Linked DNA regions of Homo sapiens. The protein of the gene in region 1 binds, or shares a complex with, the protein of each later gene. Each region holds a gene or a part of one and is shown in the gene's direction. Other genes may lie near its edges.

Region 1 (7,415 bases):
CTGTATGTGTTTGTCAGTGCTAGCAGAACTACACTGAAAAGAGTAAATTTTACTGAATGTAAATTATACCTTAATTTTTAAAAATGAGGAAACATATGCAGACAGACAAGAGAGAAATATATAGATAACATGTAACTGGAAAACATGGTTTGTGATGTGTCTCCTTTTGTAGTTTTATGTAATGAGAAAAGGCAGGCAAGGTAAAGTCAATTTTGGAAGAAGCTTTCATTTCAGGTATCTGAACACTTAAGAGTATTTTTATTTTAGATCACCTTTCCCATTCTTGGGGCATATCACCCCAAGGGCATCATAATGCTTTCTTGATCTGTGGCATGATTGCCACTTGTGTAGGCATTTACTGTAAATGCATAAGAAACTTCCATTTAGATTAGGTATTCACAAGGAATGTTTAACAGTGAGTGTGCCCAGGGATTGGGATTAGACTGTTCAGGGAACTTCTTTATCCTTTGAGATTTTATTATTTAAGAAAATTAATGGCAAAAAAATATATTTTAAAGAATCGCTAACTCATTTACCATAACATTAAATGACAAACTCTCTGATATATTTTAAATGTGGTATGGTTCACTAAAGTTTAGTTTCACATGATTTTCAGGAAACCATCTCCTGTATAACATTAATTACATCTCTACTGCTACCTAATGATTAGAAAAATTTCCTTTCTGTTCTTTTTTTTTTTTTTTTTTGAGATGGATTTTTGCTCTTGTTGCCCAGGCTGGAGTGCTGGAGTGCAATGACACGATCTCGGCCCACCGCAACTTCCGCCTCCCGGGTTCAAGCAGTTCTTCTGCCTCAGCCTCCCAAGTAGCTGAGATTACAGGCATGTGCCACCATGCCCAACTAATTTTGTATTTACTAAAGAGACGGGGTTTCTCCATGTTGGTCAGGCTGGTCTCAAACTCCCAACCTCAGGTGATCCTCCCACCTCAGCCTCCCAAAGTGCTGGGATTACAGGCATGAGCCACTGCGCCCGACTCCTTTCTGTTCTTAACATTTAATATCATTGCAGAAATTCAAAATAAAAAGTCAACATCTGTTTTATGTATAGTCATGATTTTACTGACTTGATCAAGTATTTTTTAAAATTCTTGAAAAAATCAGTTCTTAAATCGGTTAAAATGATTATTTGCTAAATGATATTACTAAAATATTGTTAAAAATGTGTGCTTTTATATACGTATTACTTCCTAGTATTAAAAATAAATGGTGAGAAATTATTATAGATGCTACAGATTTTTAAAATATTTGTATTTCTGGCTTCCTATTTTTAATCTGTTTTTCTGGAAAGTTCACAGATATTTCTTGAGTATCTACTAGCCAGGCACTTTGTCAAGTACTAATAATAATTCTAATTATTGTATAGGATTTAAAGAACCAATACATACAGCATCTTATTCTTCAGAATAACCCTGTGAAAGTAGAGGATAAGTTTAGAGATGCTAAATTCATTTCTTTGTTCATTTATTCACCCAATTATTCTTCAACAAATGTTTAAATGAGTTCCTACTCTCTACCACTCCCTGACAACACTAGGGGCATAAGGATGGCTGAGACAGTCTCTGCCTTTAAGAACCTCCATAATTTGTCATTCAAGGTCATGCCACTAGAAAATGGTGGAGCCGGCCGGGCGCGGTGGCTCACGCCTGTAATCCCAGCACTTTGGGAGGCCGAGGCGGGCGGATCACGAGGTCAGGAGATTGAGACCATCCCGGCTAAAACGGTGAAACCCCGTCTCTACTAAAAATACAAAAAATTAGCCGGGCGTAGTGGCGGGCGCCTGTAGTCCCAGCTACTTGGGAGGCTGAGGCAGGAGAATGGCGTGAACCCGGGAGGCGGAGCTTGCAGTGAGCCGAGATCCCACCACTGCACTCCAGCCTGGGCGACAGAGCGAGACTCCGTCTCAAAAAAAAAAAAAGAAAATGGTGGAGCCAGGTCTTCTGATTCAGTACTCTTTCTTGTTGCCACAGTGTCTTTCAAAATAAGAAAATGGCCTGGGATTAAGAAGAAGGTGGATTTTTAAAATTATTATAAGTTATGAAAGTTCTCTGCTCTAGGGAACACAGAAATAATAAAAATGAGACCAAGAATGAACCTTGTTGTCTTTGTTCCAGAGCAGCAGCGTCTGCTTGGCAAAGTTTAGCAACAGCCACTAGAACTAGAAATAGAACATGTCACTTCCTTTTGGAGTCTGGAACTGATCACCCTCATCTGTAGGAACCTTAGATGGCTCTTAGTGTTTGTCCTGGAGGGAACCCCAAGAGCCAGAGCAATCCAGGATCCCCATTTTACAGTGGAAACTCCCTGGCCATCCTTCCCTTGGCAAGAATAGGCTGAGTCAGAACAGGGACTACTGGGACTGTGTCATCCTGGAATCCAGTCTTTTCCTCTCCTTTACACCAGGAATAGAATAGATTTCCTGGCATCAGATGCCAGAGAGACGCATTTACTGTTCACTGTGTGTAAGTTATCAGAATCAGAAGTACTACTAACAACTCTCAGCAAAAAGGCATTGGGACAAAGGCAATGAGGAACAGTTGTTTCTGAGGTAGCTTCACTTTATGAGAATGAGCAGCAAGGGAAATTTATGGTGAAGGAAACAGTTTCTATGTTTTTTGTATAATTAATAGCTTCTTCAAGATGTCACAGCATCTGGGTGGCTTTTGAGAGGAGCACACCATTCTCTTGGCCTGGGCTGTTGGTCAGTGGTTCCTTCTAGGGCCTAAGTTCAATAGGCAATATAGACATGTGCCAGTAGGCCATTCCAAGCCAGAGCTATAACGAAATATCAGAAATCTCAGATAGTGCTTCAGACAATGTGTTTATGTCCGTTTCATCTCCGTCCTGCTCCAGCTGTTTCTTTACCTTGTACAGGTACCTGTGGAAAAGTGAAAAGCCACTCTACTACTCATTTGTCGACAAACCAGTAGCATATAAAAAAAGAGGTAAGTCAAATTTTGTCTTTTTAATACCAAGTAGCAACACAGTTGTAGAAAAATTAAATATCTGGACTTGAAATGTTGAATGCTTAAGTTTTTTACTTTTTTTAAACAAATGTTCCAGGGCACATGTACATCCAAAGGAGCATCATACTCTGCAAGAAATCTCTGCAGGAATCTACTTCAGGAATATGTCGTTCTTCAAAACAGAGCCTCAGTTCCTGCCAAAATCTAAAATCCTAAATCGTTATGATTTTGGAAATTCTTTGCTTATAGAATTCCTTTTAGACTGTACATTCTTTTTGAAGTAAGGTTTCCCCCATGCACCTCATCCAGTTTCATTTTCCCTTAACGTTATCCTGTTACATTACTGTGGTACATCTGCGAAAACTAAGGAACCAATATTGGTACATTCCTATCAAGTAAATTCCAGGCTTTATTTGTGATTTAACATTACTTGTTATTTTGTTTCCTTTTTTTCTCCGGTTCCAGAAATGGTGGTGAATCTACAGAAACAATTTAGCACACTGGTCGAGTCAACAGCAACTGCTGGAAAAAAAAGCCCTTCAAGTTTTCAGTTCAACTGGACTGAAGAGGACACTGATAGAACGTGTTTCCATGGACACAGCCTTCAGGGAGTCCTGAAAGAGAAAGGCCAATCACTGCTGACTAAGAATTCATTATATTGGCTTAGTACACAGAAATTCTGCAGATGGTAATAATGCTTTTAGAAAAAGTCACATATAATTGAAGTAGTTGACTGTATAAGAGCCAGATAGGTTTTTTGTTGGAATTAGAAGCTGGTGAGCTTAAAGTCACGAAAATCAGAATTATACATTGAGTCTTGTGTAGGAGTTCTAGGAAAGCTGGTAAAAATCAAGAAAGAGGATACAGGGCAATTAGCACAAACTATCCCCTCTAGCTAAATTAACCTGCAGTGTGGCAGGCAAGCAATAGAAGTGGCTGTAAATGCTGATCAGGAGAATGTGCTGTATTTTTTAGTACATATCACTTCTCTGAGTCAGTTACCTTTATCATGTCTTTCTACCTCTTAATACTTCCTTAAGTATTTCCTAAAAATAAGGATATTCTCTTAAGTGACCACAGTACAGTTATCAAACTCAGGAAACTTAATACTGATACGATACCTTTATCTCACCCACAGTCCATATTCCAATTTTCTCATTAGACCCCCAGTGTCCTTTTATAGCAGGATCAAGTTCAGGAGTAGGTATGGCATTGATTGATTTTATCTCTTCGGTCTCCTTTAATCTGATTGTCCCTCAGCCTTTCTTTGTCTTTCATGACATTGAGCTGTATTTTTCAGAAATGTCAGTGATGTTACACAATGTTTCTGAGTATGGTTGTGATGGTTCCTCATGTTTAGATTCAGGTTCTGCATCCCTGGCCAAAACAAGTGCCGTGTCCTCCTCAGGGTATCATTTCTCAGGGTATGGCGTCTGTAGACTGGGGCGGGGGGCGGGGGGTCCATTTGCCCCTCAGGTGTTAATAGTGATCACCCAGTCAAGGTGCTGTGTCGTTTTTCCACAGTGTAGTTACTATGTTTCCCCTTACAACTAATAAAAAATCTGCAGGGAGATACTTGGTCAGTGAAATACTCTGATCTTCATTCAACTTTGTCCCCTTGATTTCATGTTTTATGTTCTGTCCTCGTATCTGTCGAGTGTGGGCATGTGAAGTCTAGAAAACAACACGCGCTTTTATGGTTATTGGGTCTGGATAAAATAGGACTAAAGATGGGAAGCTGCACTGAGGAGAGGAATCTGTGTAGGACATAGTGGAAAACTTGTATGTCTAAATAGTAAGACACAGGCTTTTGACTTCATCAGGTTTAATTAATGATCGGCTCTGTGGCATACTGGCTCTTAGACTTCCGGCTTAGTAATAGGCTGCCTTCTTATTTTTGCTTTATTTTTTCAGAAGAGTTATATATTCCCTATAAACGGTCGATATTGGAATAATACAGTGTAAATTCTTAAGTAATTTATGAGGTCTTGCTGTGTCACCCAAGCTGGAGTACAGTGGCACGATAATGGCTCACTGCAGCCTCAACTTCCTAGGCTCAAGCAATCCTCCCACCTCAGCCTTCCAAGTAGCTGGAACTACACGTGTGCACCACCATACCCAGCTAATTTTTTATTTTTTGCAGAGACGAGGGTCTCCCTATGCTGCCCAGGTTGGTCTCAAATGCCTGAGCTCAAGCAGTCCTCCTGCCCCAGCCTCCCAAAGTGCTGGGATTACAGGTGTGAGCCACTGCGCCCAGCCATCTATTTTCATATGACTCAGAAAATTTCCTCAGGCAGTAGATAGTGAAGAACATATTACTCCCCAGAGCACATTCGTTTTTCTTTAATTGTACTGAAAATCAACTCCAAAAGTATTTTTTGAGTACTTGATAAAAATAAGTCATTATCCTAAGTCCTAGATAGATACAAAGGTAACTCAGGAAGTTTGTTTTCCAAGTCCACTTGAAGAGAAGATTTTTTTAATAAGAGTATGTTTTCCCCACTTTCCTTCTGTAGTGTCTTAATAGCTGTAGAGAGGAGTATATGGATTAAAAATTACAGAGATAATCAGTGGGGTATACAGGTGTTTACCATAAAATTCTTTCAACTTTGCTGTATGATTGAAATTTTTTATAATAAAGTTTGAGGAGAAAAACTAAAAAGATTCAGGCTATGCCATGAAGTTTTTTTCTCCTTGCCTATTTTAACTTTTAGTTCCGTTTTATATAATAATAGCGAAAAGGCCATTCAATAAAATAGTTCTGTGACTTTGAAGTTACTTTACCTTTCAGTGTCTTCCTGTTAAAAATAAAAAGACTAGACTAATATTCCCTCACTAAAGTTCTCAGTAATTAACGTGTGAAAAATAAAAGCATAAAGGCTTTTCTCATTGTGACTATATTTAAAGTAATCTCATCCCCATATTGACATAGAAATTGCCCAAGAGGAAATTTTCTAGTAGCTAAGAGGACTTGCTATAGAATCATAGAATCGGGCTGTTTCTATCCTAAGTCTGCCACTTGCTAATTGTAGGAAGGTTACTCACTTCTCTACAGCTGTGCTGACCCAGTTGTAAATGTGGGGATAATACTGATCTTTTCCTCTTCTCAAAACCTTCAGTGGCTCCCATCTCATTGAAAGGAAGACCCAAAAAACATTGTGGAGCCAACACGGCCCTCTTGACCTTCCCTCTGCTGTCCTCTGACCTCCTTGCTGTCACCCTATGTTCAGAGTGACCTCCCAGCTGCTCCTTGAGCTTACCAGACACTCCCCACATGGGCCTTTGTACCTGCTCTGCCTCCTGCCTAGAATGTTCTTTCCCCCATGTATCCACATGGGCTCACTTCTTTCAGGTTTTTGCTCAAATTTCACTTCCTTGGAGAGATTTTTCTCAGCCATCCTGCCTAAAATAGCACCAATCATTCCCCCAACACCCCTCATTATTCTCTGTCCCCTGGCCTATTTCATTTTTCTTTGTAGTTTTCATCACTATTTAATAGAATATATTATTATATATTTATTTTGCTTATTTATCCATCTCCCCACACTAGAATGTAAGGGCCTTGAGAATGTAAGGACTACTAGAATGTAAGGAGGACTCTGTTTTATTTAATGAAAAATCCCAGCGGCTAGACCAGGGCCTAGCACAGACTAGGTGCCCACCAAGTATTTATTGAATGAATGAATGGAAAATAGGGCCTACCCCAAGTTCTTGTGAGAATTGAATGAGGTATTTGATGTGTGTCACATAGTAAGTACTCAATCAAACATAAGTATGACCATTATTATTTTAAACAAAGCTAATTTTCTGTTAACTAATGTTATTTCCTGGTCTGGGCTTGGTGGCTCCACCTGTAATCCTAGCACTTAGGGAGGCTGAGGCAGGTGGATCACTTGAGTCCAGGAGTTCGAGACCAACCTAGCCAACATGGCAAAACCCTGCCTCTACTAAAAATACAAAATTAGCCGGGTGTGGTGGTGCACGTGTATAATCTACTCGGGAGGCTGAGGCATGAGAATCACTTGAACCCGGGAGGCATTGGTTGCAGTGAGCTGAGAGCACACCACTGCACTCCAGCCTGGGCGACAGAGCAAGACTCCATCTCAAAAAAAAAAAAAAAAAAATTATTTCTTAAGTTGGTATCAATCAAAGATAATTGAACTGTAGAAAATACAGTGGGAGATGATAAAGTTGTCTATATTAAGATTTGCTGCTTAAAAAAAAAGTTGAGCTGCATCTACAACGATTAAAGAGTGGCACTGTTGGCCGGGCACGGTGGTTCACACCTGTAATCCCAGCACTTTGGGAGGCCAAGGCGGGCAGATCACCTGAGGTCTGGAGTTCGAGACCAGCCTGACCAACATGGAGAAACCCCTGTCTCTACTAAAAATACAAAATTAGCTGGATGTGGTGGCGCATGCCTGTAATCCC
Region 2 (7,415 bases), on another chromosome or scaffold:
AGCAAATAGCTGCCCGTTGCAGCTTGGCACAGTATAAATGATAATAGCCTTGAAGCAAGCCAGACTTGAGTTCGAGCCTGGCTTTCTAGGTATAGCATGGTCTGGACTGGAGTCCCTGCCCTGATCCAATATGGCCACAGTTTCCTTAGGGCTGAGCCATATCTTGTCTGTGCCTTCAGATGGGAAGCAACCAGGGGCTGGGATGCCCTAGGGAGGAAGAGTTGAGCACTCAAGAACTGGGGAACAGATCGGGGGGATAGCATGAGCCAGGCATGATGGCCTCTGTTACTCTTTACCAGACCGTTGGTCCCAGGAAGACATGCTGACTTTGCTGGAATGCATGAAGAACAACCTTCCATCCAATGACAGCTCCAAGTTCAAAACCACCGAATCACACATGGACTGGGAAAAAGTAGCATTTAAAGACTTTTCTGGAGACATGTGCAAGCTCAAATGGGTGGAGATTTCTAATGAGGTAACTGATCCCCCTTTTCTGACATACACACATACCCCCCACTCAGCGTGGTGGGGGAAGTGAAACAGGCTGTAAACAGGAAGGAAAGAGACCAGGAGAGGCATTCATGTGGTCTCCCGTTAGCTCTCTACCTGCCCCTTTGCATTTTGGGAGGTGGCACGGTTGACAGCACTGGCTTAAAGTTATGCCACTTTCTATCTGAGTGGTCTTGAGCCAAACAGCCTGAGCTGTGCTGAGATTGACGGAGGTGCTAGCATGCTGAGATTGACGGAGGTGTTAGCATGGACAACCAGGTTGAGGTCAGTTAGTCCCCTTGTTGCTGGCCTTTGGTGTGTACTGACTGCCTGGGCCTCTGCGGTAGGCATGGGCCAGTGCCTGGGTGTCATGCTGCCTGCTTCATTTGGCTGTTGGCCTCTGCTCTTCTTTGGTAAATTTAGTCTAGTAAAGAGTAGAAGAGACCCGTTATAAGATGGGGGTATACTACTGTGTGGCATTTTCCTTTTCCCAACTTCCCCTTCCTCCCACCCCTCTTCCTCCAGGTGAGGAAGTTCCGTACATTGACAGAATTGATCCTCGATGCTCAGGAACATGTTAAAAATCCTTACAAAGGCAAAAAACTCAAGGTGAGTTACTAGGAGGAGGAGCATGAGGGGTATGGGAGGAAAGGTCCAAAGAAGGGATGTATTTGACCTCCATTGTGTCCTTGTCCCTTCTTCCAGAAACACCCAGACTTCCCAAAGAAGCCCCTGACCCCTTATTTCCGCTTCTTCATGGAGAAGCGGGCCAAGTATGCGAAACTCCACCCTGAGATGAGCAACCTGGACCTAACCAAGATTCTGTCCAAGAAATACAAGGAGCTTCCGGAGAAGAAGAAGGTGGGGGGAGGAGAGTTAAGGTGGGAGGAGGGGAGAGGCTGGGAGCAGCTGGTGTGGTGTGGGTCAGTTGGAGGTAGGCCTTGGAGAAACCTGGCATCAGGGATGAGGGTGAGTCAGCACAGCAGAATAGGTCCTGGGCAGCCACACCTGATTGCCCCTTCCTCGGCCCACACATGGTCAGGCACAGGCACCATCACAGATGTAAACCAGACAGCAGGTGCTCAGACCAACCTTTCCCCCTACAGAAAACCCACAGCATTCTGTTTCAAGCTCTCTCTCCCCCATACACCCATCCTCACTGTTAGGCTCCGCAGCACTTCTTCACCCTCTATGACGTTTCCCGTCATGGTCTCATTTGATACTTGCAATGTCTTTATAAAGGTAACCCTAGGAAAAGGTTATCCCAGTTTTGTGGGCAAGGAACTGAGGTGCAGGAGGGTTAAGTGTCCCGGGTGACACAACTATTGATGCTAGAGCAGGATTTAGTGCCCCAGAGTCCCAGTCCAGTGCTGTTACTGCCACGTCCACCTGTGAAGTGCACTTCTCCACGCACACGTGTTCACTCAAGGACACACATTGTCCCTCCTGGCCTCATACTGTTCCTTGCAGAGGTCGGGCACTGTCCCAGACCATCAAAGCATTAACTCTGGGTGGAGGGTTGCCTAAGCCTCCCAGGCAGGGCTCAGTCACAGAGCTCAGGAGGTCCCTCCCAGAGATAGGCAGCAAAACATTGGAGGAGCCTGCAGATGGGACACGAGGAAGATGGGATGGGGACAGAGGACACAAAGAAGAGACACGGGACAAGGAGACAGAGCCAGGGATAGATGGGGAAGGGCAGCAGGAAAGACAAGAAGCACATCTGCTTGGAGAGGAAACAAAGTCATACACAGCCAGTTCTCAAAAGGGGGCACTGGCCGCTGCCATGCTATGAGTAGCCCTTTTTCCTGGTTGGCATACCCTGGCTGCAGACTCACATGCCCTTGGTGCTGTACCCAAAAAAGCCAGCTGTCTGCAACCACTGCCCAAGCAGAGAGGGGTATGGATTGCTGGAACTGTTGACCCCTTTGATGAGGATGTTGGACAGTTGACTGCACACACCCAAACACTCTCATGGGATGGGAGGGAGAGGCCAAGCTCTAGAGTCAGAGCCAGGGAAGGCCAGAAGAAACTGGTAGAGTGGACAAGGTGCTGTCCTGGGGGACACAAGACTTGGGCCTGTTCTCCTGGCTCTGCCACTGAACCGCTGTGTATGGGGCCTTTGGTAAGTCATTTCACTTCTGTGGGCCTGGTCTTTATGTGAGGTGAGCCAGGTCTGTGTGGTCCCCTTCAGGTCTAAAACTGTTTTGTCTGAGGAGGACTGAGATGGGGGAAGAGGAGGCTGAGCTCTGCTTCTGGTTTTCTGTGGGAACTGTGGGAAAGGAGCACTGCCTTTCTATGCCTGGTGCTTCTATAAGAGGCAGGGGTTGGGCTCAGTTGCCATGAGCTCCTGGCACCTGCCAGTGCCACTCTTGTGAGCCCGCGAGGATGAAAGAAGAGATGGACATTGTGTGGGAGCCAAGAGAGAAGGTCGATGAGGAAGAGAAAGAGACACATTGGAAAGGAGGAACAAGAAGGAGACTATGGAGAAGTGGGGAAAGATGCAGGGAGGGAGTGAGGTGAGAGTGGGGAGGCTAAAAAGGGGGTGATGAAGGGAAGGGAAGCCAAGTGGTGGGAAAGAATGAGTGGGCTGAGGGAGGGAGGGCTGGAGGGGCCAGACAGCCAGGATCCTGGAGAAAGAGAAGAAGGTGATGGTGTGAGAACTGGGCAGGAAGATGCAGGGTAGCTGGCTGAGACTTGTATTGGAAGAACTCGCTCTGGGTTCCCCTCCACACAATCTCCCCTCATGCCTTGGAAACAGGACTCAGCCCAGCCCTGGCCATAGATGTAGAGGCTACGTACAAGGGGACAGACTAATGTCAGCTGCCACAGACAGTGAGAAGAGGGAGTGACAGGAGCAAGGCCTGCACCCGACGCCACTGTGAGAGTTCTATGGTGTTGGAGAAACGAGTGGGGGAGGCTCAGCGCTGCCACTGCGCACTGTGTGACCGTGGGTAATGCCATGGCCCCCTTCTGGGACTCTTGCTCAGAAGGAGAGAATAGGATGTAGGATTCAGTGTCTGGGCGACCCCTGCAGCTCCCACCATCTGTGGTAGAAGCCAGCAGGTCTGCTCTGTGGTGAGTCCCGCCAGGAGGCGGGCAGGGCGCCAGCCTCCACTCCCTGCATCACAGCGTGGGAGGCAGAAGAGCCAGCGAGGAGGGGTCTGGGTGGCCTTCATAGCTCAGGGTGAGATACCCTTGGGTCCTGAGTGACCCCATCCCCTCCTCCCCCCAGATGAAATATATTCAGGACTTCCAGAGAGAGAAACAGGAGTTCGAGCGAAACCTGGCCCGATTCAGGTAAGGCAGTGGAGCCCAGAGGAGGGCCACGGGGCACTGGGGGCAGCAGAATAGGCTAACCCTGGCCAGAGCCTTGAGTTTGCCATCTCTGAGGCATGGAAGAGGATGGGTCACATGTGAGCCCTAGTGTGTCATGCTCAGGGACAGAGACAGGCAGGCAGCCACCGTCCCACTGAGCCCCAGCTGAAAGGCCCAGGAGGCTTGGTGGGTGGGGCAGCTAGCTTGAGTCTGCCCTGGCAGCGTCCCCTGCTGATCCTTGCTCCCCGTGTCCTGGCTAGGGAGGATCACCCCGACCTAATCCAGAATGCCAAGAAATCGGACATCCCAGAGAAGCCCAAAACCCCCCAGCAGCTGTGGTACACCCACGAGAAGAAGGTGTATCTCAAAGTGCGGCCAGATGTGAGTGTCCGGCCAAGGGTTGGGGGTGGAGGATGCACGGCGGTGGCCAGGGGGGAGCCGCGCCAGGTCGGCCGGGCACGGTGCAGGGGAGCAGGAGAGGAGGCCCCTCCCCAGGGGTGGGCTGCATGGACAGGGCCCGGGCCAGCTGGCGTGCAAGCGTGTGCGTGTGTGCGTGCGTGTATGAGCCAGTCCCCTTGCACCCAGGCGGGATCCCCGCCTCTCCGCCTTCCCCTCCTGGCCTGTGGGGGACACTGATGTGACCTCCCATGGCCTGAGGGGGCGGGGGCCTCTGTGCCCCCTTCCCCCTTCCCCCCTCCCCCTGCCCCTGGCTGCCTGTGCGTGTCTGACGGCTTTTGGTTTGCAGGCCACTACGAAGGAGGTGAAGGACTCCCTGGGGAAGCAGTGGTCTCAGCTCTCGGACAAAAAGAGGCTGAAATGGATTCATAAGGCCCTGGAGCAGCGGAAGGAGTACGAGGTTAGGCTTCCGCTGCGCTCCTCCCCGTCCGGCTCTTCACGAGCCTCTGCCCTCCGACTCCGTGGCCACCGCACTCTGCGGGAGGTGTCACTCCCCATCCCTCTGTTGAGGGAGGGGCCTTCTGGGCCCCTCACCTCTGCCCCTACCTTCCCCACCCCCCACCCCCATGAGATCTCAGGCTAGGGCAGGGCAGGGCACCACGTCTCGTGTGACACCACTGACGCGCAGCCACCCCCAGCTTTGCTCCCTGCCTGCCCTCCCCAGCGGCTCTCCCCCTGCCCCTGCCCTAGCTAACTCCACACCCCATTGCCCTCCGTCCCCCCACCTGGCTCTGCAGGAGATCATGAGAGACTATATCCAGAAGCACCCAGAGCTGAACATCAGTGAGGAGGGTATCACCAAGTCCACCCTCACCAAGGCCGAACGCCAGCTCAAGGACAAGTTTGACGGGCGACCCACCAAGCCACCTCCGTGAGCGCTGCCCTGGGATGGGTGGGCGAGTGGGCAGCTGGGAAGTTGGGCTGGGCTCTGCAGGTGAGAAGGCCTGCTGCCCTGCTCGCTTACGGGCTGCACCTCTCTCCCCGCGGCTCTGATAGGAACAGCTACTCGCTGTACTGCGCAGAGCTCATGGCCAACATGAAGGACGTGCCCAGCACAGAGCGCATGGTGCTGTGCAGCCAGCAGTGGAAGCTGCTGTCCCAGAAGGAGAAGGACGCCTATCACAAGAAGTGTGATCAGGTGAGCTGTGGCAGGGGCCACCCTGCCTTGGGGTTTTGAAGCATGAGGTCTGATCCCATCTTGGGCCAGTCAGTCCCTGGTGGCGTGTGCCTTGGGTACCTGCCTCCAATACAGTGTGGGGCTGGGCTGGGCTTAGCAACTGAGCCCGTCCAGGCAGGGAGTCCAGCCCACACCCAGGCTCTGGAGGCCCGCTGAAGGTCACTGTCCTCCGAGTACTGCAGGGTCTGTGGTGACACTGTCTCCAGACTGATCCTGACTCCACTCACTTTCCCAGAAAAAGAAAGATTACGAGGTGGAGCTGCTCCGTTTCCTCGAGGTGAGTGTTCCTCCGGTGGGGCAGTGGGCAGAGAAGACTGGGACTTGGCAGGCAGAGCCCTGGTGAGCCCCTGGAGATAGGGCACCATGCAGTCTGGGTGCCAGGCATGCAGCCCCGTGCTCCTCTTTCCTGTCCAGAGCCTGCCTGAGGAGGAGCAGCAGCGGGTCTTGGGGGAAGAGAAGATGCTGAACATCAACAAGAAGCAGGCCACCAGCCCCGCCTCCAAGAAGCCAGCCCAGGAAGGGGGCAAGGTGGGCAGAGGGTGCGGCCGCGCAGGCGGGGGTGGGCAAGACTGGGCTCCCTGGCAGCACCCACGGACCCCGACCCTCTGCACCTGGACAGGGCGGCTCCGAGAAGCCCAAGCGGCCCGTGTCGGCCATGTTCATCTTCTCGGAGGAGAAACGGCGGCAGCTGCAGGAGGAGCGGCCTGAGCTCTCCGAGAGCGAGCTGACCCGCCTGCTGGCCCGAATGTGGAACGACCTGTCTGAGAAGAAGAAGGTCAGGCTGCCTGGCGGAGCGCTGTGCCCCCAGGGGGGCTGCCAGGGCCCCCTCTTCCCCTTGGCGGGCCGTGCCACCTCGCCCCTGGCCGCCTGAGCCACGCGGTGCCTGGGCTGGGACGTGGGGCCGGCGCCCAGCAGCCGGAAGGCGGGAAGCTGTCAGCTGAGCGCCGCAGACCAGGCGGGGGCGAGCCCCAGGCGGGAGACATCTGCACCAGCCCATGCTTCTGCCCGCCGGCGGGAGCGCCTGGGCTGCTGCGCGGGGAGCGCGCGCCCCCTGGGGGTGGGTGGAAGGCTGACGCCCGGGCCATCCCCGCAGGCCAAGTACAAGGCCCGAGAGGCGGCGCTCAAGGCTCAGTCGGAGAGGAAGCCCGGCGGGGAGCGCGAGGAACGGGGCAAGCTGCCCGAGTCCCCCAAAAGAGCTGAGGAGATCTGGCAACAGAGCGTTATCGGCGACTACCTGGCCCGCTTCAAGGTGACAGGGGTGGGAAAGGGTAGTACTGCAGCCTCTAGCCCCGGGTGACCCCTCCCACGGCTGATACCCTTATTGGTCCCCAGAATGACCGGGTGAAGGCCTTGAAAGCCATGGAAATGACCTGGAATAACATGGAAAAGAAGGAGAAACTGATGTGGATTAAGAAGGCAGCCGAAGACCAAAAGCGATATGAGGTAGGAATGGGGCTGGGGCCACCCCATTCATTGAAAGCTCGGGAACTCCCCTTTGGTTGGGCAGCTCTGAGCAAGAAGTCCCAGCCTTGGTCTGTGACTCTCAGCAAGTCTCAGCTTCCTTCTCTGAACCTCTGTCTCTCATCAGTAAGGTGGGGGTGACATTGCTAACCTCCAGGCTGACTCGGAGGATGCGAGCAGTTGTGAAAGCACTTGTAAACTGTGGTGCCTGCCTCAGACGTGAGCTGTTAGGAAGTTGCTCACTAGCTACCTGTTTCTCCTCCTCCCTGGCACAGAAAAAGACAGCCAGCTAAGGTGCTGATGGCATGAGGCAGAAGGCAGCAGTATTTTGGGGGTGGGACTGGGGGGTGAGCGTGACCTTTCTCCCTCCAGAGAGAGCTGAGTGAGATGCGGGCACCTCCAGCTGCTACAAATTCTTCCAAGAAGATGAAATTCCAGGGAGAACCCAAGAAGCCTCCCATGTGAGCCTGGGGGTTGGAGTCTGCCCTGGAGGTCGGGGAGGGTCAGGGCTGGATGG
Region 3 (8,284 bases), on another chromosome or scaffold:
GGATTTAAGGGGTATGTATTGAAGAAGAGGAAATAACGGTTTACCTCTGTATCATGTACACGGTATTACCCTTACCAAACTGTGCTTAATAATGTCTTTTAAGTCAGGGGAGTGGCTCCCATTTCGGTATCTCCAATGCTAGCACGGCAACTTAAATTGCATGTAAGTGGCTCTAAAAACGTATACAGAAATACCAGGGGGCCTTAACCTCCCTGGAAGTCAGGTGGGAAGAATGTTCACCTGCCATGACTCTTTCACAGTTGAGCATCTGGTGTGGCTGGTGATCCTTGGAGATCGCTGCTCACAGCAGGGTCCACCCCAAGGTCCCAAGCTCAGGCCAGGTCCTGCTCCGGCGGTGTCTCTGAGCATAGGGACCAAGGTCCACCTTCCCCAGACCCCCTGCTCCCCACGTCCTGGGACCCAGCCCTCCGTGGCTCTGCCCTCTGGCACAGCCATGCCCCGGCCCGGCCTCACCTGGTGGCTGGTCCTCCCGGAAGAGCAGGAAGATGCCCAGGCTGGCCGCGTACTCCGTGAGCAAGGACACGGCCTGGCTGGCAGGTGGGTCTTTGAGCGGCAGGCTGAGCCCTGCTGGGGGCACAGGGACCCTCGGGGCCTTCCCCATCTGTTCCCCCAAGTTTTCCCACGCCCGGGCTGCCCCCAGTTCCCCGACTCCGGCCCCTGCCCCAGGCCCACTGTCCCTCAACACCGAGACCTGGGGCCACCCGCCCTCCGCGCGATACGTCGCGGGCGCGGGCGCGGGCCCCCAGGCACTTTGGGCCTGGGCGGGTAGCGGTCGCCAGGGGCGGGGCTGGGGGCTGATCTGCAACGATGCAGCCAGGCGGGGCTTCCTACGACTGCCGTCGTCGTCAGCGCCCTGAGAAGCCGAAGCCATGGCCGCCAACGAAGATCTGAGGCGCTAGGCCCTATCTCGCGCTGCTCTCGCCCTTTCACACGCGCAGGGCGGGTGCCTTCACGTGGGGAGCACGCGGACGAAGCGTGGTGAGCTCCACCCCTGCCATACGATGGCCAATGAGAGCCCTGAGATCTGTGATGGACAGTGCACCCTGCCAATGGGAAGGCCAGTCTCCCAACGACGGCGGCTTGGATGCTTATGGCTGAGGCCAAGGTCCCACTGCCTGGACGGAAGTTCCGGCTGAGACCAACGTCCCATGGCCTGGAGGGAAGTTCCGGTGGGTGGGTGAGGGGTTGCTCTAGCAGCTGCTTCTTTAACCGTGGGTGGTCGCGGAGCCTGCAAGGCGGGGGAGGAGCATCTGGGGGCGTCAGGTCCAGTTTCACACTCTAGCTCCTGCCCTAGGCCCCTAGGCACCTCCACATCACAGGCTGCTCAGCTGCTTCACTGGCTGAGCCTGGAGACTTCAACACAGGAATTAGGGGTTCACACTGTCAGCAGGATCATTGGATATAAAATTTCACTGCAGGCCTTTCTGAAGCCAAACATAAGTGTTCCCCAGCCAAGAATTAGCCATTTGATGCAAAATGTAGGTGGGCGTGGTGGCGCACACCTGTAGTCCCAGCTACTCAGGAGGCTGAGGCAGGAGAATCGCTTGAACCTGGGAGGAAGAGGCTGCAGTGAACTGAGATTGCGCCACTGCACTCCAGCCTGGGCAACAGAGCGAGACTCTGCCTCAAAAAATAAATAAATAATTTTTTTTAAGAAAATAGCCATTTGATACTCTGCCTTTTTCCCCCCTAAGAAGGGATTTTGAGTTAATTCATACAAATAAGACAAGATAACAATTGTTTAAAGTGAAGAGCTAGAGATCAAGAGACATAGGAAAAATAAGATAAAGACAGGGATGAAGACAATTTACACAAGGCTTACTGTGATGCAACGCGTATTTGCTTGAAGGAGGCTGCAAGTTTAACGGAGTCTTACAGTAGCCACTAACTTGGGAAAGCATGACCAGTGTCTGTAAGATTTGTCACAGTGCTTGCTGCTGCTGCTGCTGAAGCTGGGCCTGGCAGCTCTCTCCAGGATTGTGACAGTGAGGATGCTGGGGCATATGAGGACCAGGTGGTGGAGTCCTCCCAGAACCTTTGACTTGGAAGAAGCAGGTGTGGTGGGCTGGGTAGTCAGCCTCCCCAACATGTCAAGAATTGACATCAGGAAGAACAATTCCATTTTGTGTGTGTGTGCAGCCCAGAGAGTGGGATGAGGCCCAGGAGAGTGAAGGGACAGCACAGCAGATGTCCAGAAATGGACTGAGGGCTGCACATATCCACAGAGAGACTTCCACAAAGTCATCAAACCCAGTAACGCCCCAAACGCTCACCAACAGGAGGTTGCGTGAACAAATCAATGGTATATTCATACAATGGAACACGACTCACTAATTTAAAAAGGAAACAACAGCTGCGTACACAACACAGGTGAATCTATTAGGCACATGGCGTGGAAGAAGCCAGACACATCCTCTCCATGATTCCACTTATGTAAAGTTCTTGAACTGGCAAAACTAATCTGTGGTGATAAGAGTCCAAATAGTGGTTCCTTCTTGAAGGAAGTATTGACTGGGAAGTGGCACCAGGGAATTTTCTTTTTAGAAAAAAATTTTGTAGAGATGGGGGTTTTGCTCTGTTGACCAGTCTGGTCTTGAACTCCTGGACTCAAGCAACCCTCCCACCTCGGCCTCCCAAAGTGCTGGAATTATAGGCATGAGCCACTGTGCCTGGCTGGAACTTTCTTGAGTGATAGAAATGTTCTCTGTCTTGATCTGGGTGGTGTTCATGTGGGTTTCTATGTATGAATAAAAATTCAATGAGCTGTACATTTAAGACTCGTGTGCTTTACTGCATGTTGAGTATATGTCAGTTACAAAAGCAAATTGATAATGGCTTATTCAGAGAAAGGAGGAAAGGAAGAAATGGAACTGGCCTCGCAGTGCCAAAGCTGGATAGGCGTTTTACAAGGGTAATGTAGAATATTAGTGTGGTAGGCAAAATAATGGTTCCCCCAAAGATGTCTACAGCCTAATCCCCAGAACCTATGAGTATATTATTTGGCAAGGGGGCATTAAGGTTGCAGGTGGAAGTAAGGTTGCTAATCAGCTGCCTTTAAAATAGGGCTCTCACCTGTAACCCCAGCACTTTGGGAGGCCCAGGTGGGAAGGTAGCTTGAGCCCAGGAGTTAGAGACCAACTTGGGCAACATGATGAAATCCCATCTCTACAAAAACTACAAAAATTAGGCCGGGCGTGGTGGCTCATGCCTGTAATCCCAGCACTTTGGGAGGCCAAGGCGGGTGGATCACATGGTCAGGAGTTCAAGACCAGCCTGGCCAATATGGTGAAACCCCGTCCCTACTACAAATACAAAAATTAGCTGGGTGTGGTGGCAGGCACCTGTAGTCTCAGCTACTCGGGAGGCTGAGGCAGGAAAATCGTTTGAACCTGGAAGGTGGAGGTTGTAGTGAGCCAAGATCACGCCACTGCACTCCAGCCTGGGTGACAGAGTGAAACTCTGTCTCAAAATAAAAAAAAAAAAAGAAAATTAGCCAGGCATGGTGGTGCTTGCATGTAATCCCAGCTACTCGAGAGACTGAGGTGGGAGAATCATCTCAGCCTGGGAAGTTGAGGCTGCAATGAGCCATGATGGTACCACTGCACCCTAGCCTGGGCGACAGAGTGAGACCCTGTCTCAAAAAAATAAATAAAACAAATAAAATAGGGAGATTATCCTGGATTACCTGGGCGGGCCTACTATAATCACATGGGTCCTTACATGGGAAAGAGGGAGACAGAAGAGTAAAAACCAGAGAGATGGCCTCATGAGAAGAATCCGACTGGCATTGCTGGCTTTGAAGATGGAAAGGGGTCATGAGCCAAGGAATGCAGGCAGCTTCCAGAAGCCAGAAAAGACAAGATAGTGGACTCTTCCTTAGAGCCTCTCAAAAGGAACACAGCCCTGCTGGCACTTTTAGTCCAGGTAAAAACTTCCAGATAAAAACAATATAGGCCAGGCGTGGTGGCTCATCCTGTAATCCCAGCAATTTGGGAGGCCTAGGCAGGCGGATCACTTGAGGTCAGGAGTTCAAGACTCAGCCTGACCAACATGGTGAAACCCCGTCTCTACTAAAAATACAAAAATTAGCCGGGCATGGTGGCGCAGGCCTGTAATCCCAGCTACTCGGGAGGCTGAGGCAGAAGAATTGCTTGAACCCAAGAGGCGGAGGTTGCAGTGTGCCAAGATCGTGCCACTGCACTCTAGCCTCCATCTCAAAAAAATAAATAAAGACATAGATGACAGCTGAGAATTTGGAAATTGATTCTTTAAAGCAACGGTTCTCAAAGTATGGCCCCTGGACCAGCATCATCTGGGAACTTGCTAGAAATGCAGACTCTTGGGCCACATCCCAGATCTACTGAATCAGCAACTCGGGGGGCAGAGGTAGGGTGGAGCCTAGCAAACTTGTAACAAGCCCCCCAGGTGGTTCTAAGGCTCACTGAAGTTTGAGAAGTACTATGTTAGGATAACGGTAAGGTTCATGACTGGACAGTGGTTCTTAAAGCATGGCCCCCAGATAAGCAGTTTCAGCATCACCTGGGAACTTAGGCAAATCATCAGGTCCCACCCCAGACTCACCGAATTGGAGACTGTGTTTTAACTAGCCCCCCAGGTGCTACTGCTGACGCACGCTAGCTAGAGTTTGAAGACCACTGCCTAAAGCTCTCCCTGCCTGACCACCCCTGGAAAAGCTTCACTCTTAGTAGGTATTTGTACCCTTATTTGTAAAGCCCGCTTCTTGGGATTTAAGGACAATCAGTAGGATACCTACTGACCAATACAGGTCTGGCTTATAGTAGGTGTTCTGTGGGAGTTCGTTAAATGATTAATTTAATACAACTCTGAGGAAATTGGTGAAGTAGATGTGGGATTCGAACCTAAGTCCACCCGGCCTCCACTATTGGGACTCAAGGGAGCTTTATTTCCGCTGCCCACGCGCCGCCTGCACGCCCGTTCCCTCTCCTCCCGGGAGGGGGCGCGCCAGGACCCTAAGAGGCCTGGCTGGGAGGCGGGACTTCCTGCCTCCGCAGGAGGCACTTCCGGTCCAAACCGGAAGACCGTGGGTAGCTGCGGCGGGGCTGACCCGTCCCGAGTGCCAAAGCTGGGGTTCTACTTGAGATTTCCCTCGTGGTGCCAGGGTCCGGCGAGCATCACGCCGAGGCCCATTTTCCAGACGACCACGACGAGGCCGGGGTCACGTAAGTGCACGCATGCGCCCCCTCCGCGCGGACTGCGCGTGTTCGAGGAGCGGACCCGCAGATGTAGGAGGGGAGGGACGCCCCCAATCCCCAGTCCCCGCGGCAGGCTCACGTTTCGCAGTCCCCGGCCTGTCGTTATTGCGGATCCGACTGAGTTCTGTAGCCTTGGAGGTCTAAAGGGTCCTGGAGAGCCCGCAGCGAGGGCGGGAAGCCGGCCGGGGAAGTCGAGGCTGCCTTGTCTGAGGGCTTTTGTGGGGTCGTGCTCTCCACCAGCGCCCTCCGCCTGTCTAGGATCGTTTCAGGCTATGCGGTTCCAAGAGAAAATATTTTTGTTTCTATTTTATTTTTGAGATAGAACCTTGCTCTGTCACCCAGGCTGGAGTGCTGTGGCATGATCTTGGCTCACTGCAACCTCTGCCTCCCAGATTCAAGCGATTTTCGTGCCCAGCCTCCTCGGTAGTTGCGATTACAGGTGTACACCACCACGCCCGGCTAATTTTTGTATTTTTAGTATTGACAGGGTTTCACTGTATTGGCCGGACTGGTCTCAAACTTCTGGCCTCAGGTGATCCGCCCGCCTTGGCCTCCCAAAGTGCTGGGATTGCAGGCGGGAGCCACCGCACCCGGCCAAAGGGAAAAGATTTTTGTATAGCGAGACTCTAATGCTAGCGTTTGCATTTCGGTGCATGCGAGAGCACTGGTTCGGAGCTCTGCCTCTGAATCGGATGGGAATCAAGTCTTGGCTGTGGCAGCTAAGAGCTGTTGGACTAAAGTTCTTGCTGAGCCTTCGTTTCCTGAACTCTGTTAACAGGGACGGCGATAGAAGAGTGCAGCATTTAGCATGTGCCTGGCAGATAGATGCTGGCGCTTGGTCAGCGAGCGCTGCTGTTATTTTTGCCCCTGTTATTTTTGTTAATTAAAAAGGAGGGATGCTATGGCTGCTCATACTTCTAGAGGACTGTATTTACCAAAGCCTTGTGATGTAATTTTTTTTTTTCTTGAGATGGAGTTTCGCTCTTGTTGCCCAGGCTACAGTGCAATGGCGCGATCTCAGCTCACCGCAACCTCCGCCTCCCGGCTTCAAGGAATTCTCCTGCCTCAGCCTCCCGAGTAGCTGGGATTACAGGCATGCGTCACCACGCCCGGCTAATTTTGTATTTTTAGTAGAGACCGGGTTTCTCCACATTGGTCAGGCCAGTCTCGAACTCCCGACCTCAGGTGATCCGCCTGCCTCGGCCTCCCAAAGTACTAGGATTACCGGCGTGAGCCACCGCGCCCGGCCCCTTGTGATAGAAATTTATTTTTTTCAACCCCTAGTGCATTTTCTGGGAGGCACTGTGCTTGACAGTAGGAAGACGATGCTCAGATGCAGTCCCTGGCTGTGGAGTAACTTGAGCGTCTTGGGGGTGTAGTCTGTAAATGTATGATGACGGTACTTACGAGCCGGGAGAGAGGCTGCCCCTTGCCGTCTTTCTGACTCCATCTCCACCGCTCTCCACCTCGCTCACTCTGGCTGCCTCATTTTCTCACACACTTCACTGCTCTAGGATTTTCACAGTTGTTGACCGTTCGGCCTGGAACCCTCTTCCCAGTTGCGTACATGGTTCTCTCCTTCACTAGGTTCAGGCTGTGCTCAAACGCCACCTTCTCAACGAGGCTTTTCCTGGCTGGCTTTGCTGAAACCACGCCCTCAGCCCACTACCAGATCCCCTTCTCCTGGACGGGTGGTTGGCTTTAATACAGTTCTCACTACTGCTTGGCCTTGGGCTACATATTTGTTTTTTGTTATCTGCTTCCTCAAAGAACATATGCTTCCCGTAGTGCACTTTTCACTCCTCAGGAACTCTGGCGCCCCTTACCAGCTTCCAGTCTCTCGAGGTGGCCAGTGTGGTGCTTGGTCCTTGTTTCCAGGATGGACTTCCCCAGCTCCCTCCGCCCTGCATTGTTTCTGACCGGCCCCCTTGGTCTGAGCGACGTCCCTGACCTCTCTTTCATGTGCAGCTGGCGAGACGCACTGACTCTGCCAGAGGCCCAGCCCCAGAACTCAGAGGTGAGGATGCAGGCAGGGGGCCCTGGCAGCTCCAGGGACATCCCTTCCCTGGGTCCCCCGTCTCACATTCACATCAGTTGACAAGGCCACAGAGTGGTGGCATTCACACGAGTCTGCTGAGACACAGGCTCTGCCACCTCCTCTGGGGTACATGGGCTACCCTGCCATCCCTAGACGGATGCCCCCACTATGCCGGGTCCCTTATGAGACCGTGAGAATGCTGCCTGAATCAGTCGGTTGACCCCTCCCTTCCTGGAACGGAGAGCTGAGTTGAGCGAGAATAAACAAGTGAACTTTATCCAATGGATAAGGTGTTTACAAAATGTGATCAGAGCTTGGAATGAAAGCAGAAGGATGCTGAAACAGCATAGTAGGGTTGGGAGAGGGGAGGATAGACCTGCAGGGTTTCTGCTGCCTCTGGAGGGACACTGGCCCTTTGCTTGGAATCCTCAGCCGCCTAGTTCCCCTTGGAAACACCCTGTCTGGGAATGAAGCCTGGCAGAGGCAAGTGGGTGAGCAAATAAAAAGAGAGACAGTGGAGCAGAGGCTTGGGGAACGGGGGTCAGGGATGGCATCCTTACGAGGGAGGGTCTGGCGTCAAATTGGGGCTCCTCTGGGAGTCTGGTTTCCTAGCTCTTTTGTCCCCTGAATGTCTGGGCCGAAACATCCCAGGCCAGCCCAGCAAAGGGAGGTGGAGCCGCCTGCCGGGCTCCCAGAGTGACTGCAAGGTCTCCTGAATGGAAGTGAGGTTACGTGAGATGTGGACCAGCCACTGGTGGCATGAGGGGCTTCCTTCTTTGAGAGCCAGCACAGGTGGAGGTCGGAAACAGGAGCTCTGGGGTCAGGCTGCCTGGGTTCACATCCCAGCTCTTCTCTTTACCGGCTCTGTCTTCTGGGGCAAATGGCAGTGTGCCTCAGTTTCTTCAGCAGTAAAATGACAATGCCAGTCATCCCAGCTTCGCAGGATTGTTGTGAGGATTGGATGAGTTGATAAGAGATGAATGCCTGTGCA
Region 4 (7,702 bases), on another chromosome or scaffold:
ACCTCCGCCTCCCAGGTTCAAGAAATTCTCCTGTCTCATCCTCCCCAGTAGCTGGGATTACAGGCATGTGCCATCATGCCCGGCTAATTTTTTGTATTTTAGTAGAGACGGGGTTTCACCATGTTGCCCAGGTTGGTCTCAAACTCCTGAGCTCAAGCAATCCACTTGCCTCGGCCTCCCAAAGTGCTAGGATTACAGGCGTGAGCCACTGCACCCGGCCCCCAAATCTTATATAATCATACTTAAATTATTTTAAACATAGTTTTGTGTGGGGAAAAGAGAGCTCAGACTGTTACTGTGTCTATGTGGAAAAGGAAGACAAAAGAAACTCCGTTTTGATCTGCACAAAGAAAAATTGTTTTGCTTTGAGATGCTGTTAATCTGTAACTTTAGCCCCAACCCTGTGCTTACAGAAACATGTGCTGTATTGAATCAAGGTTTAAGGGATTTAGGGCTGTGCAGGATGTGCCTTGTTAACAATATGTTTGCAGACTGTATGCTTGGTAAAAGTCATCGCCATTCTCCATTCTCTATTAACCAGGGACATGATGCACTGCAGAAAGCTGCAGGGACCTCTGCCCAAGAAAGCGTGGGTATTGTCCAAGAATTCCCCCCACTGAGACAGCCTGAGATATGGCCTCGTGGGAAGGGAAAGACCTAACCGTCCCCCAGCCTGACACCCATAAAGGGTCTGTGCTGAGAAGGATTAGTAAAAGAGGAAGGCCTCTGTTTCCCGCATATCCCTGGGAACAGAATGTCTCCGTGTAAAGCCGACTATTCGTTCTATTCTGAGATAGGAGAAAACCACCCTGTGGCTGGAGGGGAGATATGCTGGCAGCAATACTGCTCTGTTACTCTTTGCTACACTGAGATGTTTGGGTAAAGAGAAACATGAATCTAGCCTACTTACACATCTGGGCACAGTACCTTCCCTTGAACTTATTTATGACGCAGATTTCTTTACTCACATGTTTTCCTGCTGACCTTCTCCCCACCATCACCCTGTTCTCCCACCGCAGTTCCCTTGCCGAGATAGTGAAAAGTAATCAATAAATACTGAGGGAACTCAGATACCAGTGCCGGTGCAGGTCCTCGCATACTGAGTGTGCCCGTCCTCTGGGCCCACTGTTCTTTCTCTATACTTTGTGTCTTATTTATTTTCTCAGTCTCTCTTCCCACTTGACGAGAAATACCCACAGGTGTGGAGGGGCAGGCCCCCTTCAGTTTTGGGTTGAATAATTTATAATTGTTCAGGAATGAGACAGTTTAACTTTTTCTTTTAAATAATTTCAGATTGACAAATATTACATACAAATAATTCCTATACATTCTTCACCCAGATTTCCCAAATGTTAACATTTTATCACATTCTTTATCAAGCAAACATTGGGTACTAACTTATTTATGAACATGTCAAAATCTGCACAATGAATAGTATATTCATTTATAATGATAAAAACACTTTACATATTTTTGCTGGCAGTAGGAATAAGAACACAAGTTAAAATCCAAATGTAATCTTAATTTTATTCCCTTTATTATCTCTTTAGTAAAAAGTTAGGTCAGTTGTTTCCGTTTATTTATGTCCCTACCAAAGTAGAAACAAAGTCCAATCTTGGGAGGATGTAGCTTGAATAACTGGTTTAGAAATGTACTTATTAGGGGTACTTATTAGGGATTAGTGGATAAGTGCTTAAATGGTTGTGGATAACAGTGCATATAGGACTCTCAAGTATTTCTATAACAGACACTTGTGCGTTCTACTCTATATTTGACATTTAGACAAAAAAATCAAATGAGTTCCTTAGACTATCACTTTTTCATAATAAAATTTAAATTATGAAGGCCCGTCCAATTCTAAAATGATGTGAACTTCAGGCAGGCTGATGGCACAGCAGGCAGTGTGGTAGCATGTGTATGTGAGTGTTTATGTGTGTGTTGGAGGTGGGGAGAGGGTTACAGTTGGAGCTGAGAAAGGAGTTAGGTTCTCACATAAACTCCAGGAATACAGCCTTGGGCCAGATGGAGGCAAACAGTATTTTCCTGCCTAATTGGTGGGAGTCGATGGCCCAGAAATAGGGTCTAGAAGGGAAACGGAGCTGCAGAGGTTAACACCTGGAGGGGTAGACCAACTATCGCAACTAAACTGGTTACCATTTGAGTGCACACTATATACCAGACACCGTTAGACACTGTGCAGACGTTCTCTCAAAACTTTTCACAACCATGACAGGTTGTAAGACAGGCTGTGGGTCTTCAGGGGTCGCGGGCATCCCCTAGACACAGCCGCAGGGCCTGCATGGAGTTCGCTCCTACCGGCGACCAAAAGCGCTCGCTCCGGCTCCAGCATCTGCTCACCCCCACGCACCCTCCCATAAAGGGTGGAGCGCAGCAGGCCTGGGTGACTGGAGTTCGTGGCTTCCAGCACTCCAGTTCCCGCCTCATTCACTCGCGCCCCCCCTCCCGCGAGGAGTTGAGAGCCGTGGGCTAAGTAAGTGAGGCACCGCAGCCGCAAGACCCACGAAGGGGTCAGAGGAATATCCTGCTTCAACTGCACTCCAGCCTGGGTGGCAGAGCAAGACCCTGTCTCTATAACACAAACAGAGAAATACCAAATGTGGCCGGGCGCGGTGATTCACGCCTGTACTCCCAGCACTTTGGGAGGCCGAGGCAGACGGATCACTTGAGGTCAAGAGTTCGAGACCTGCCTGGCCAACATGGTGAAACCTGGTCTCTACTAAAAGTACAAAAATTAGCCGGTTGTGGTGGCGGGCGCGTGTAGTCCCAGCTACTTGGGAAGCTGAGGTGGGTGGATCTCTTGAGCCCGGGAGGTGGGGGTTGCAGTGAGCTGAGATCGGGCCACACTGCACTCCAGCCTGGGCGACAGAGCGAGACTCTGTTTCTAAAAAAAAAAAGAAAAAAGAAAAAATACAAAATGAAATGTGAAATTTCAATGATTCTGCATTAGGAGTTAAATGTTCCTTCCCTTTAATAGCACTTTTCCCCTTCTTTTTGAACAAGGGACGCTGCATTTTCATTTTGCATTGAGCCTCACAAATTACACAGCTAGGCTTGCTGCTGAATACGGCAGTGAGGGACATGCCATACCAGTCCTGGAGCTTCGTCATTGCCCAGACCCTGTGGATCAAATGCAGTGGGCTGCCTAAAGGATCGGACTTTTTATCCCCGGAATTGTCCAAACTATGGAGCAAAGCAGGTAAAGAGACCAGATTACTTTTAAGGCCCGTTCAATCCTAAAATGTGAACTATAAAATAAGACTAGACAGCTTTACTGATTTTTGTGGTTTATCATATGAAAACAGAATTTTGAAAGCGGAAAAATCAAACCAGTTCATTCCTTTTTAAAATTACTTTGGGAGGCCGAGGCGGGAGGATCACCTGAGGTCGGGAGTTTGAGACCAGCCTGACCAACATGGAGAAACCCCCGCCTCTACTAAAAATGCAAAAATTAGCTGGGCATGGTGGCGCACGCCTGTAATCTCAGCTACTGGGGAGACTGAGGCAGGAGAATCGCTTGAACCCGGGAAGCAGATGTTGCGGTGAGCCAAGATCGCACCGTTGCACTCCAGCCTGGGCAACAAGAGCGAAACTCGGTCTCAAAAAAAAAAAAATTACTTTGGGAGAAAAAAACCCCACCAAAACTAAACTAGTTTACACTGTTTAATCTTAACTCAGGAACCGGTCAAGGAACTAATGGTGTGGGGCAGGGGGGATGTAGGAGGAAACTTAGGAAAAACAAATCCTCCACAGGTCTCACTTGTGACATGTTAGCCAACTCCTGGGAGGCAGAAAGGGTGAGCTTACGAAACAGGTGCAAAAGTGGGGAGGAGACCTGGGCGTGCTATGGAATAACACTGGCGTCCAGCACAAAGGTTACACACTTCGAGTCATGGTCAAAGAATGAGCCTTCTCCAATATTTTAACACACAAGGGTTTCTGAAGGCAGAAATAGACAAAGGATTACAAAACACTCAGGCACACATCCCACCCGTCACCCTCGCCACACACCCGGGACCAGATTTAGAAAGCCAGGCGACAGCTCAGCAAACGCGAGACCACCGGAAACGAACCGGGCTGAGAGGCTGTTTCCTCACAGTTCTCATCCACTCACAAGTGACCGCACGTTTTGTTTTTGTTATTTGCCGAAATGTTCTTGGCTATTCCACTCACCTAAACGGTCACGGTAGCAAAACACCCAGAGTCCGGATCTTCGCCTAGGCCAACCCCGCCTCCTCAGAATACGCGAGCTAGAGCTCCGCCCACGTTAGTCAGTCCTCCCTGCGCGGCGAGAAAAATGGCGCCCCCACGTCGCGTCTCCTCCCACCGCTCGCCTTCTTCCCGGAAGCTAAGTTGTATCGCGAGATTTCGGCCTGACTATTACTTGGGCCACGGAAATAGCCAACCCTTTTCTTCCGCACGGTTGGAGGAGGTCGGCTGGTTATCGGGAGTTGGAGGGCTGAGGTCGGGAGGGTGGTGTGTACAGAGCTCTAGGACACCAGGCCAGTCGCGGGTTTTGGGCCGAGGCCTGGGTTACAAGCAGCAAGTGCGCGGTTGGGGCCACTGCGAGGCCGTTTTAGGTAGGTTGCTAAGAGGGCGAGGCCGTCCGGGCCTGGCGGGCGGGGGAGGCGTTGCATATCTGGGGTTTCCCGGGGCCCCTTCGTTGGTCCGGAGGATCGAGACTCCGAAGTCGGTCCGAGAGGGTGAAGGGATCACGGCCGCAGGCCACTCCGCGCCACGCGGCTGGTATGAGTCCCACACAAACGTGGTTGTAGTGTGGACGGGCTTCATTATATCTTGAGATGGAGGTGTTAAATCGTGTTGCGGACAAGTTTAACCTTATTACGTGATTTAAATGATTTAACCTTCGTATGTGAGGTACCCATTACTCGCGCCGGTTTTCTGCAGGTTAGGCGCTGCCGGGTGAGAGGCGCTGGTGGTCACAGCGTTAGCTCCGGGTAAAGCGCCGCTCTCTGCCCACGTGGCCTCTAAGAATTGCAGAATCCCCACGGAGGCATCGACACCCAAGTAGGAGTGTCTTCTAAACACTTCGAAAAAGTGATTATTGAGCTAGCTTTATTTTGATAATCCCTACTTTTAAAAAAAATTAACTACAGGTATACCGTTAAAGCATGGGGGCAAATTTTTGTTGAATTCCGTTTTTGAGCATTCGATATTTAATGACTTTGTAGAATCTTGTACTTAAAAAAACTAGTAAGACCTTGTACCAGGAAAATACCACAGGGGGCATTTAACAAATCTGAGCTCTTGGTGACCTTATCGTTTCATATTTTAAATATTTTGCTAGTTCATCCTAGGATTTATATGTAATGACTCATGTCAGGTCCCAAGAAGCTACAGAATGAGACAAGAGATTGACTAAGGCATGTACAATAATGAAATAAGTAGTTATCTTTAATTTTTGTTGCCATGCCTTTTTTTTTTTTTTTTTTTTTTTTTTTTTTTTTCCTGAGACAGGGTCTTGCTCTGTCGTCCAGGCTGGAGTGCAGTGGTGCAATCTCGGCTAACAGCAACCTCCACCGCGGCTTAAGCGATCCTCCCGAGTGGCTGGGAGCAAAGGCACGGGCCAACACACCTAGCCAGTATTTTAAGAATTTTTTGTAGAGACAAGGGTCTCCTTGTGTTGCTGAGGCTCACTACATACAAGCTCCACCTCCCAGGCTCAGGTATTCCACCTACCCCAGCCTCCTGACCACAGGCGCGCGCCACTATTCTGGCTAATTTCCGTATTTTTTGTAGAGACGGAGTTTCACCACGTTGCCCAGGTTGGTCTTGAGCTCCTGGGCTCAAGCGATCCGCCCGCCTCGACCTCCCAAAGTGCTGTGTTACACAGGCCTGAGCCACCCAGACCAACCTGTTTTTCTTTTTTCTTTTAGCTCACAAGAAGGAATCTTTTTCTTTTTTTTTTTTTTTTTTTTTGGTATGTTGTATACTCTCTACCATGGGGATGAAGACACAAGAATTATGATAGTTCATTGAAAAAGGTTGAGAATTCAGAACTTGTCAGTTTCCACCAATAATGGCAAAGATACAATATGACAAAGTTCAGTTGCTTAAATGAATCTAGGAATGAAGAATCTAGGAATTATAATGGAGAGGTGATTAGGAGTTTAAAATGGTTTATTGATTGGAGATCCTTTTCCTGGTTTATATAGGGCACACTTTGCTTTAGGAATTCCCCCTTTGATCTTGGAAAACGGCTTTTAATTGTACATTAATACTGTATTGGTAATTGTACGTTAAAATATGTGGCTAATGATAAAACTACATTTTTTACTTATATTGAAAGATGCTTTTGTTGGAAGGGACGGTACTTTTTTGGAATCTTGTTGCGTTGAATACATTTAGAGGGTAACAACTGAAAGAACCTGTGAATAGAATTTCTGGATTTCTTTTTAAAGAAACTGATCTGAAATGGATAAGAAGCTTAACCTTGGTAAATGATTTCGCCTGAAATCATTGGCATAGTCTGACCACGTTCAACACTGTAGTAGATACTGTCAATATTTAGGGAAGCTTTGTCATATTTACTAAATTTCATAATTTCAGAAAACTGTTTAAAACAAAGAGCAATTGATGGATAAATCAGGAATAGATTCTCTTGACCATGTGACATCTGATGCTGTGGAACTTGCAAATCGAAGGTGAGTGGATTCAATCATGTTTATTGTATCTGAATTATGAGAAACTATTGTATATAATGAGTGACAGTAAAGATAATTTTCAGGAATTGGGAAAGAAGGAAAACTAGATTTCACTGACCTTCCAAGTTTATCTAGTTACATAGATTGATATAATAGCATTGCAAATACTTTAAATTCAAAATGTGAATATATTATGGGACACATTCGTCGAGAAAAAATGTATTCTTTGGGTCATATTAGCATCTCTTCCAGACTACATCCTCCGGTTCGGTAGGCTGTGTTTGTTTTACTCAGACACTCTTAGCAGTGAACCGAACCATACAGCCTTTTGGAGCTCATACATTGTCTTGAAAGATACAGTTTTTTTGTAAGCTGAGCATAGTGGTGCATGCCATTAGTCCTAGCTAGCTACTTGGGAGGCTGAGGCAGGAGCATCCCTGGAGTTTCCAGGAGTTTGAGGTTGCAGTGAGCTGTGATTGCACCACTGCACTCCAGTCTGGGTGACAGCAAGACGATGTCTACAAAACTCTTTAATAAGAGCTGTAGCATTATGGGCTATTTAAATAGGATGATCAGTAGAAAGGCTAGCTGGTTCTGAGCCCATCCTTTAAAAAATTTTTAATTCTGGGCATGTTTTCTGAGTTGGTCTTGGAAGAAATGTACATTTAGGACTGGGTATTAATGGTAATAAGCAGTAAGAAAAGAAGATGAAATTAATTTTTTTCCCATTTTTCTAGTGATAACTCTTCTGATAGCAGCTTATTTAAAACTCAGTGTATCCCTTACTCACCTAAAGGGGAGAAAAGAAACCCCATTCGAAAATTTGTTCGTACACCTGAAAGTGTTCACGCAAGTGATTCATCAAGTGACTCATCTTTTGAACCAATACCATTGACTATAAAAGCTATTTTTGAAAGATTCAAGAACAGGAAAAAGAGATATAAAAAAAAGAAAAAGAGGAGGTACCAGCCAACAGGAAGACCACGGGGAAGACCAGAAGGAAGGAGAAATCCTATATA

What was found.
Region 2: TAF1B (region 1) and UBTF share a complex: the UniProt entries of both Homo sapiens proteins name them as parts of the pol I pre-initiation complex.
Region 3: TAF1B (region 1) and TAF1C share a complex: the UniProt entries of both Homo sapiens proteins name them as parts of the transcription factor SL1/TIF-IB complex.
Region 4: TAF1B (region 1) and TAF1D share a complex: the UniProt entries of both Homo sapiens proteins name them as parts of the transcription factor SL1/TIF-IB complex.

Annotation. Positions count from the first base shown.
Region 1 is NC_000002.12:9,916,149-9,923,563, forward strand, and holds part of TAF1B (TATA box-binding protein-associated factor RNA polymerase I subunit B), read left to right. Parts: intron 1-2,892; coding exon 2,893-2,963; intron 2,964-3,449; coding exon 3,450-3,672; intron 3,673-7,415. UniProt on the Homo sapiens protein: Component of RNA polymerase I core factor complex that acts as a GTF2B/TFIIB-like factor and plays a key role in multiple steps during transcription initiation such as pre-initiation complex (PIC) assembly and postpolymerase recruitment events in polymerase I (Pol I) transcription.
Region 2 is NC_000017.11:44,209,589-44,217,003, reverse strand, and holds part of UBTF (nucleolar transcription factor 1), read left to right. Parts: intron 1-299; coding exon 300-475; intron 476-1,014; coding exon 1,015-1,098; intron 1,099-1,194; coding exon 1,195-1,350; intron 1,351-3,721; coding exon 3,722-3,786; intron 3,787-4,064; coding exon 4,065-4,185; intron 4,186-4,549; coding exon 4,550-4,660; intron 4,661-4,997; coding exon 4,998-5,131; intron 5,132-5,256; coding exon 5,257-5,398; intron 5,399-5,672; coding exon 5,673-5,714; intron 5,715-5,851; coding exon 5,852-5,965; intron 5,966-6,056; coding exon 6,057-6,212; intron 6,213-6,530; coding exon 6,531-6,686; intron 6,687-6,769; coding exon 6,770-6,880; intron 6,881-7,270; coding exon 7,271-7,359; intron 7,360-7,415. UniProt on the Homo sapiens protein: Recognizes the ribosomal RNA gene promoter and activates transcription mediated by RNA polymerase I (Pol I) through cooperative interactions with the transcription factor SL1/TIF-IB complex.
Region 3 is NC_000016.10:84,183,839-84,192,122, reverse strand, and holds the start of TAF1C (TATA box-binding protein-associated factor RNA polymerase I subunit C), read left to right. Parts: upstream 1-5,065; 5' UTR 5,066-5,222; intron 5,223-6,539; exon of another isoform or gene 6,540-6,641; coding exon of another isoform or gene 6,642-6,643; intron 6,644-7,062; 5' UTR 7,063-7,133; coding exon of another isoform or gene 7,134-7,134; coding exon 7,135-7,272; intron 7,273-8,284. Other genes in the region: ADAD2 (adenosine deaminase domain-containing protein 2), read right to left, coding at 475-892. UniProt on the Homo sapiens protein: Component of the transcription factor SL1/TIF-IB complex, which is involved in the assembly of the PIC (pre-initiation complex) during RNA polymerase I-dependent transcription.
Region 4 is NC_000011.10:93,738,218-93,745,919, reverse strand, and holds the start of TAF1D (TATA box-binding protein-associated factor RNA polymerase I subunit D), read left to right. Parts: upstream 1-4,424; 5' UTR 4,425-4,598; intron 4,599-6,588; 5' UTR 6,589-6,615; coding exon 6,616-6,683; intron 6,684-7,420; coding exon 7,421-7,702. UniProt on the Homo sapiens protein: Component of the transcription factor SL1/TIF-IB complex, which is involved in the assembly of the PIC (preinitiation complex) during RNA polymerase I-dependent transcription.